Linked DNA regions of Homo sapiens: all the other regions are reported to be linked to region 2. Evidence: microRNA targets listed by miRTarBase, many of them from high-throughput screens and not tested one by one. Region 2 holds a microRNA gene; each other region holds the end of a gene's coding sequence.
What was found. Region 2 holds the annotated microRNA hsa-miR-571 (UGAGUUGGCCAUCUGAGUGAG, at 1,421-1,441, opposite strand). A microRNA usually pairs through its seed, bases 2 to 8, with sites in the 3' UTR of a target mRNA and lowers its output. Matches are read on the target gene's strand: a 7mer-m8 pairs with bases 2 to 8, a 7mer-A1 pairs with bases 2 to 7 and ends in A, and an 8mer does both.

Region 1: miRTarBase lists NUFIP2 as a target of hsa-miR-571. Seed matches in the 3' UTR shown: 7mer-A1 at 357-363.
Region 3: miRTarBase lists SYDE2 as a target of hsa-miR-571. Seed matches in the 3' UTR shown: 7mer-m8 at 401-407.

Annotation. Positions count from the first base shown.
Region 1 is chr17:29,261,827-29,265,184 of GRCh38, forward strand. NUFIP2 (nuclear FMR1 interacting protein 2) reads right to left here. Exons shown (of 4, transcript NM_020772.3): 4 at 1-2,765. The coding sequence ends at 2,713. Among named protein-coding and RNA genes, the nearest start is that of CRYBA1, 17 kb to the left of the region's middle.
Region 2 is chr4:348,300-351,657 of GRCh38, reverse strand. It overlaps MIR571 (microRNA 571), which reads right to left and starts at 1,501; the gene lies at 1,406-1,501. The region is part of intron 3 of ZNF141 (zinc finger protein 141); the gene reads right to left.
Region 3 is chr1:85,155,910-85,158,909 of GRCh38, reverse strand. SYDE2 (synapse defective Rho GTPase homolog 2) reads left to right here. Exons shown (of 7, transcript NM_032184.2): 7 at 1-2,021. The coding sequence ends at 160. Among named protein-coding and RNA genes, the nearest start is that of MIR4423, 24 kb to the right of the region's middle.

The sequences.
Region 1 (3,358 bases), not on the chromosome of region 2:
GTTCTCAGAAAGTTAACAGACATTCCTAACTACATACCTCTAACCATATAATCAAGGAAATTTCAGTGGAGAAATCAAAGTGAAATGTTGCATTGTTTCATTTAGAAGTGAGACTCTCAAAAACCTTTGGACAGACAGAGAAGTGATACATTCTTTTTGGCTTCTCTGAACACTGAGGCCTGAGGGATATGGAAGGAAATTAGAAAAGCAATAGCTTTCTAAAGATGTTTAATCAAGTGTTGCTTCTAAGTTAAAAAGCCCAATTCAGGTGGGGTCTGGGTTTGTTTTTTGTTTTTTCCTTTTCAAATATATACTCAATTCAACCTCTGTATGTCACAAACCCAGAAAGTTTCTTGTGAGTTGTGAGACGGAAGAACTTTAAAATTCCAGGCAAGCAAAATGGACATTTAAAAAAGGGGACTAGAGAGGGGAATCTGGCCCTAAGGCGACAAGTGGTTACACAAGGCAATTGAACACACAGCAGAACTTTAAAACCTGTAAAACAAACTGGAGCCTTTTTTCCCTTTAATCAACCTTATATGTCTTTTTTTTTAACTTTTTGAAAATTTTTATTTAAAAAAACACAAAAACACAGACTTTTTTCACTTCAGTTATGTGGTATGTTGCATTTTCCAGTTTGTTCAATGCTTTAAAGCTCAAGGATGCCTCTGCTTTCAATTGTACATGGGCCTGAAGCATCCTAGCTTTTGGCAAGCAGGCAGGAGACTCAACAAAAATCAAAATAGGAACAAGGCAGACTAAATGCAGGGCACATCTGTAAACATATTATACATTTGAAAATTACAATATCAGTCAAAGTGATACAGTTTACAGGTGAAATGAAACTATCTGGAACTGGCCTACCACAAGTTTCTGAACCTGGACTGATACAATAAGTTATTTTATATATATATATATATATTATGTATAAAAAAAAGTTTTGTTTACATCAAGTGGAATTGGCAATCCATGCTTATACTTTTAAAATCTAAGCAGGGCAGAAATCCAGACTAAAAAGATAGTTACTCTACTCTATGTTGAGTCCAACAGCTTCTTTCATGAACTACTTGTTTTAAAAGCCTCAAATAATCAACAAAACAAGAAAACCCATCCATACTACAGTCACTCAAAACTGGACATTTCTAGGGGTAGAGCCAAAGTAGTTACTTTCTCCCCAAATACCCCAGGGGATCCAGTCTACTTTTATCAGAAGACTACAACTCTTTATATAAATGCCCTGATATTTTAACCTGTATTTGACATACATGGATATACTAATTTCTGTGTGTGTGATGTGATGCTGTGTCAGGCCAGACAACTTGTTATTATGTTACTAACATCACCCAATCTCAATTGGACCCTTAATTTCTGCACACACACACAAAAATTTATTTTAGCATGCTATACACAAGCTGCAGTGCAACAGGATGGCAATGTAATGATAAGACAGGGCTAATGCTCTTCTCTGCCCCAAAGAAAATTTCCAGAATTTCACATTATTTTCCTTAAAAACCCATCTTGCTCTAGTAATAAAATATATTTATTAAGATATAATTAGAAGCTAACAAGCTCAGAAGTATAGTTTGCATGAAAACACACCTTCTACAGTCAGGGTTTATTATCTTCTCACTGGCTAAAAACATGAAAAGTTTTAGTTTTCATGGACTTTTTTCTTCCCCTTTTAGATTTTGCTGAGAAATTAAAAGATAATTTACAGAAAGGTCTAAGTTTGTCTTAAATGTTTGATGAAAAACAAGGAAAACAGCACATTTAGTGTTAGTGACGGAGAGCAAGTCTGGAGCACCTACAGTTGAAAAGCAGAATATATTTTTGCTCCCAGTTATACAATTACATTAAAATATGGGCACAGGAATATTTTTCCAGATTGTATATCTAAGCCAATTGCTTGTTCTGCAACTTTTCTTTAAATGACACGCATAGATTCTTCAGTTGTTAAAGTCCAATATGTAACCGAAGCCAAGTTAACTATGTACCATCAACTAACTATTCCAGAATTGTAGAACTTCAATGCCCTCCCCTATCCCCGCCCCACAAAAAATAAATGGAAAGAAATAAAGTATTTCCCCAACACCCCAGAGGCCGCTTAACTCCTGGCAAGACATGCAAATCATATTCGCTAAAAAAATACACCCTGCTAACTTCAAGGCATTTATCCAGCATTCTCGCAGGGCTTAATTAAAGTAAAACCAAAAAGATCAAGGGAGGAGTGGGGGGAAAATGTTGAATCATTCTGGGTTCCCCGTGATTAGTGTATCACTTCAGTCACAGAACAAGATACAGAGATCTTTTAAGTGGATTTGCCTTTCCAGTGGGTCATTTGTTGCCCAAGTTGATGACAGCAGGAACTTTAGAACCACACTTGTTAAGTCTGTATTCATTAATCACTTGCATTCACACTTAAAAACAAAAACTAACAGAAGAAAAAAAACCTATTCAGTACCGGAGATTAAATAACCATGTGTAGTCTCTTGAAATAAATTTGATTCCTTAAGAAGTCTAATTACTTTCAGTTGCCTTTTTTAAATAACTATATATATATATATGTATATATATATATTTGTATATATTATCCTGTGATTCTACTTATGGTTCCTCTGCTGCGTTGAAGATCTAGGAGCATAAAAGCCTTGTGTCCCCCATGAACGATGGCTCTAATGCTGCAGAAAGGTTACGAATAGGCAGTCTGGTCCTTCATTGATCTGGACTATCCATGGCTTCATTGTAAGTGATTATCCTTTTGGGATCTAGAAAGGTTAAAAAAATAAATAAAAATAAGGTCTAGAATCTCAAAATGCCCGTATTCCAATAACAATCCCAAATAACCATCATTTAAACTGACCAATTTTTTTATGAAAACAAAACTTCAAGCCCATTTCCTCCTTGTACCAACACATGTATGATCCAGTTTCTCAACCTGGAAGTAGCTATTTGGAATTCCAATGAATTCCAAGTACAGGGTCCTCTAGCCAGTGAGGGCCTCAACTCCTGCAGATCAGAGATGGTTGAGTTCACTTAAGGGTTTTATGTACTTCTACTGATTACAAAAGCAGTGTATTTGAATACAGCAGCCAAAGAAAAAAGCTTGTCACCAATAATCCAATATTAAAAGAAACACTTGGATTTTTCTTTTGCTGTTCCCAGCAAATGAAGTCAAAATTTATTTTAACCAGTGTGGGAACTATCTAAGTAAAACCTGCCACCAAAAACTTGACGTTAAATTAATTAGCAAAACTGCCAATTCAGTCCTAATCAAGACTGACTCAACTTCCCACAGTAACACCAGCCTTTATTCTCAGCACTAACAAAAGACTATGGATCTTTCAGATTCAAAACATAA
Region 2 (3,358 bases):
ATAAAAAGAACTCAGTGGTTGAAAAATCCAGGAAAATGCCTCAAACTCAGTGCTTATGTTTTAGGAGGAAAGAAAATTGTAAGGCACTTACATTTTATACTTCAACAAGTATATGGAAGTATAAATGTTTCTCCGGCCAGGCATGGTTGCTCACGCCTGTAATCTCAGCACTTTTGGAGGCCGAGGGGCGGATCATGAGGTCAGGAGACCACCTGGCTAACATGGTAAAACCCCGCCCCTACTAAAAATTAAAAAAATTAGCCAGGCTTGGTGGCAGGCACCTGTAGTCCCAGCTACTCGGGAGGCTGAGGCAGGAGAATAAGTTGAACCTGGGAGGCGGACATTGCAGTGAGCCGAGATCGCGCCACTGTACTCCAGCCTGAGTGGCAGAGCGAGACTCTGTCTCAAAAAAAAAAAAAAAGGTTTAACTGGCTCATAGTTCTGAAGGCTGTACAGGAAGCACAGCAGCTTCTACTTTTGGGGAGGCCTCAGAAAGCTTCCAGTCACGGCACAAAGCAAAGGGAGAGTGAGTCATCTCACACAGTGGGAACAGGAGCAAGACAAGAGTGAGAGGGGAGGTGCCACATGCTTTTAAAAAATAAGATCTCAGGCCGGGCGCGGTGGCTCACGCCTGTAATCCCAGCACTTTGGGAGGCTGAGGTGGACGGATCATGAGGTCAGGAGATCCAAACCATCCTGGCTAACATGGTGAAACCCCGTCTCTACTAAAAAAAAAAAAAAGTACAAAAAATTAGCCGGGCATGGTGGCAAGCACCTGTAATCCCAGCTACTCTGGAGGTTGAGGCAGGAGAATGGCATGAACCCGTGAGGTGGAGCTTGCGGTGAGCCGAGATCATGCCACTGCACTCCAGCCTGAGCCACAGAGCGAGACTCCATCTCAAAAAATAAATAAATAAAAAATAAGATCTCGGGAGAACTCACTCACTATGGCAAAGACAGTACCAAAGGGGCTGGTACTAAACTATTCATGAAAAGCCAACCCTACGATCCAATCATCTCCCTCAAGGCCCCACCTCCAACAATAGGGATTACATTTGACATGAGATTTGAATGGGGACATAGATCCAAACCGTATAATTTACAAAAGTGAAAAAGTGAAAAAATTCAAACATCCTTCAATGAATGAAAGATTTTAAAAGATGTGGCTTATACACGCAATGAAATATTCTTTAGCTTCAAATGAAAATGTCTTGTCAGATGCTACAATAAGGATAAATCCTGAGGCCATTATTTTAGTGAAATAAGACGCTAACAAAGTGACAATGCATGATTCCATTTTTATACAATATTTTAAGTAGTAAGCACATAGAAAGCAGAAGTAGAAAGGTGCTTGCCTATGGTTAGGGTTGTGAAACCTCAGTGGAGCCAGAGATCGAGGGTTATTTAGAATAAGCAGGCCCTCACTCAGATGGCCAACTCAAGAGCCCATAGACATGGCTACAGACAAGGAAATGGCACACTGAGCTTGGTCTTACTGAGGATTCTGAAGCAGTTCTGTAACCTCTCTCAAATTCAATCTCAGCTACAGTCCAGACGTGGTCCTTCCCATCAAGAGACCTGCAGGGAGATACACACCCAGCCATGGCCCTGGAGGCAGGCCTGTATATCCTGGCCTCAGCTGTGCTCCTGAGCCCTGTGACTCAGTTCTAGCCCTCACAGTCACAGTCCATGGCCAGTTGTACACAATCAGGGACCCAAAGAGAAAAGTGTGGAAACTGTTCCCAGGTTGTCAGTAGAAGCCAAACCCATTCATACACCTGGTATTTGGCCCATCATATGCAGACAAACTTCAAAACCCTAGTCTACTGCCTGCCATATAGATTAATATCCTCAAGGAAATCTAATCTCTCCAGGGCCCAGAAATAATCCATGACTGTCCAAATCTCTGGTAATACAATCATCAAAGGCAGACCCCACAGCAGACCCAGCAGCACCCTTGTGACCCAGCTACAACCCTTCTTCTCTGCAACCCCAGAGGTAATCTCATCAGCCTGGGACTCAACAAAAGGAGATCTTTACCTGCCAAAAATAGTTTATACAAACTGTGAAATTTGTCAAATGCAGACACAGGGCTGCTTCAGAGACCACAGCCGGGGACAAGACTTGCAGGCCTGCCTCCAGGGCCACAGCTTCTATCTTAACATGTGACTGGAAGTTTGTATCAAAACAATTAGACAAGGAAAAGGAGAATAAAGCTCTCCAGAGTGGAAAAGAAATAAAAAAGTTACTGTTTGTGGATAATATCATCATGCATATACATAAAACCCTAGAGTAAAATAAGAAAAATTGATTGAACTAATAAATGCATTCATTAAAGTATCAGGATACATAATCAACATATAGATGCTTGTTGGGATTTTTTTTTTTTTGAGACAGGGCCTCACTCTATTGCCCAGGCTTATCTCAAACTCCTGTACTCACATGATACAACTGCCTTGGGCTCTGAAAGTGCTGGGATCACAGAAATGAGCCACTGCACCTGGCACCACATACAAATATTTCTTGCATTTCCATAGAGTAAAAACAAACTTTCCAAAAATAGAAACCATTTCCATTTGCAATAGTATAAAAATAAGAAAGTTAATCAAAATAAATTTAACCAAATGACATAAAAAACATATAGTATTATACACTAAATACAATAAGATATCAATGACAGAAAGTGAAGTAGAAACAAATAAATGGAAACATATTCCATTAGGATAACTAATATTGTCAAAGAATATTATCCAAAGTGATCTATAGATTCAATGTGATCCCTATCAAAATTTTATTGGCATTTTTCACACTAATAGAAAACACAATTGTAAAATTTAGGTGTAACCTTAAACGACTTTTAATAACCTGAGCAATCAATCTTGAGAAAGAACAAAGCTGGGGGCATCATACTTGTTTTTTTTTTTTTTTTGAGATGGAGTCCAGCTCTGTCACCCAGGCTGGAGTGCAGTGGCACAATCTAGGTTCAGTGATCTAGGCTCACTGAAACCTCTGCCTCTTGGGTTCAAGTGATTCTCCTGCCTCAGCTTCCCGAGTAGCTGGGATTACAAGCGCCCACTACCACCCCTAGCTAGTTTTTGTATATTTTTAGTAGAGACAGGGTTTCACCATATTGGCCAGGCTAGTCTTGAACTCCTGATCTCAAGTGATCCGCCCACCTCGGCCTCCCAAGGTGCTGGGATTACAGGTGTGAGCCACCTTGTCTGGCAGGCATCATGCTTTCTAATTTCAGACTTCAAAACAAAGACTGAAATTAAGACATGAAATCTTAAAACTCATGAAGAAAACATATGGAAAAACCTTGTTGATATTGGTCTCGGCAATAACTTTTTTTGAAATG
Region 3 (3,000 bases), not on the chromosome of region 2:
GTCCAAAGAGTGTACATTTCAGACATATTTGACAATGCAGACAGTTGAGTCTACAGTGGATCGAAAAAACAATCTCAAAGATCTACAAGAAAGTATTGATACTTTGATTGGAAATCTGGAACGTGAGCTCAACAAAAACAAGCTTAATATGAGTTTTTGAGATTGAGGGTTTTTTTTTGTAATGTCTTAAAGTTTCAAATCTGTTTTTGTTTTATTTTCTTATACCACCCACAGCGATGTTTTCATTTTTTTACTCTTGAAATCTTTAATTAATTTTTAATAAGTTTATCTGATTCAATTAAAAACACTATTCATTAATACAATTTTTACTTATCTCACTAGAAAACTTTTCTGGGGATCAATAAAACTTGGACTTCTTGGGATATTTTACTAAATCTTGCCAACTCTATGGAGATAACTTTCAAATGCACTTAAGAAGGTTCACATAAGTTATTAGCCCCTCAAGGTTTTTCTGCTTTATGGGAACCACTCTTCTGTAGCTGAGACAGATGTCCTTTTTTTTGTTGTTTTTTGAGACAGAGTCTCACTCTGTCGCCCAGGCTGGAGTGCACTGGTGCGATCTCAGGTCACTGCAACCTCCACCTCCCTGGTTCAAGTGATTCTCCTGCCACAGCCTCCCGAGTAGCTGTGATGACGGGGCCCACCACCATGCCCAGCTAATTATTGTATTTTTAGTAAAGATGGGGTTTCACCATGTTGGCCAGGCTGGTCTCGAACTCCTGATCTCAGATGATCCGCCCACCTTGGCCTCCCAAAGTGCTGGGATTACAGGCGTGAGCCACTGCGCCTGGCCTCTAGATGTTCTTTTAGAGGAACATCACAGCTGCTCAGTCTGATTTGCAGTACTGGTCCTGGTACACTGCAACATCCTTTGGTCAAATTTTATTTGTAATGCAAATGCTGCTATAAGAAAATCTTTTTATAAATAAAAGTGAAATTATACAAGTATTAATGTTTTCTGTATTAACAGTAATTATTTAAGCTTATAAAAATTAAATATTTTTATAATCCTGAAACTGTATATATTTATAAATGCATATATGTATAGATATCAGGATGGGGGAGGGGTTATTGTAGAATCACATGTATTTTTAAAGTATATATGTCATGAGGCCAAAATTATTATCTTAAAGTATTTTTTTCAGGGAAAGAACATTTAAATTAAAGGAGGAATTACATAAAAACACTTGAACAATAATACTCTAGAAGCATCTGAATAGAAATAATAGACTTTCTTTCCTTTATTCACAGAAAGTCACAATGTCCCCTGGGAAAAGTCATCTTTTAAATTTGAAATCCTCTAACTCCTTAAGGGATTAAGTACCCAGATTTCTGCACTGGTGACTTAGATTTAATAAATCTGCTCCTGTTCTATGCATTTTTATATTCTGCTTTGTTTTAATTATTTATTTGTAGTAGTACATTTATAACATTGACTTTATAATTACCCCCATTTGTTTCTAAATAGTCTTGCCAGCATATTACATGTTACTGATTTTTAAAAATTAACTTATTTTGGCTAAGTATATATACAATGTTATAGAATCACAGTAATGTTTGAAAATGTAAATTTAGAAGGCTTTTGTATTAAATCAAAATGTATTTTTTTAACTTTTATATCTACAGAATATGTAATTTTAAAATTATAAATAGACTTTAAGTTACCAACTTTTAAGACATGGCAGCCATTGAAAAACTGGCTTCCTGATGTTTTTCTAAATATTAAAGTACTTAAAATATTTCTATGCAATAAATATTGATAAACAGACATTATTTAATTTGAAAACCCATTGTTAAAAAAGATAAATATTTTTATATGAAATTTTCATTTTTTAAAACTTTGTGTTAACAATTCAGAAGAATACCAAGAGAACATATATATTGAGTAAACAGTCAAAGGAAAGTACTCTTGAATGTTTTATAGGAAAGCTGTCTCAGTTTCCTTCCTTTTGTTGCTATATCATGTATGAATTGAATAAATTGCTCTAGAAATGTAAAAATTTTATTAAAATATTATAATCTTCGTGTTATGCTATTATAATGGTTTTAAGGATCACTTATTTTAATATTCTTTTTAAGCAAAGGTGTTAAAATTTTGGACCATCATGTATTATCCATCAATATATGTAAATAACATTTATTTGTCCAGAATTTTCCAGAATCTGAAATACTTTTAAGGGCCATGCTTGTATTACTATATTACTATATTATTTTGGATGAGAATAGTTTTAAAGTTGATCTCTGCCCTCTTAGAGAATTCTATCATTTTTTTGTTGTCTCATCACCGAGTTATAGCTATAAACTGCTTTTATTGACTCTGCTGTACCAGAAGTGTTGGATAAGTTTAGATGTCTTTACTTTAAATGGCATTTTACTTCAAATATTTTTTGCGAGTTTTTATACCTGCTTTTTATAATTTCCTAGGATCTTTCTGTAGTGTCAACTGTTGCTCCTTTCTGAGGCTGCCAGCTTTAATTTTTCTTTTTCTTTTCTTTTTTTTTTTTAATAGAGACAAGATCTCAGTATATTGCCCAGGCTGGTCTCAAATTCCTGGGCTCAAGCGATCCACCCGCCTCAGCCTCCCAAAGTGCAAGGATTACAGGCGTGAGCCACTATGCCCAGCCCCTAATGTTTTTTAGGATTAAAAACAATTTTAATTTTAGAGCATGTACCTGAATAAAAATTCTAAACAATTCAGATGGATAGAAAATAAAAGTACAAGTGTTTCTGTCTGCCATCCACACCAATTTCACCTCTTAGAGGTTAACAGCACGTTTCTTGCTGCTGTTTCTTATCATTTAAGCCAAATTTGTTATTCTATGAATGATAAACAGTTTATCTCACTTCATTCCTTCTCACCATTTTTGTTATGTTTTTAGTTCATTTGTTCTCCTTTATAACTGTAGTTAATAATTTTTTTGATCCATTGACTTTAAATATATTTCCATAACATTGAGGAAATGACCAACCTTGTACTTC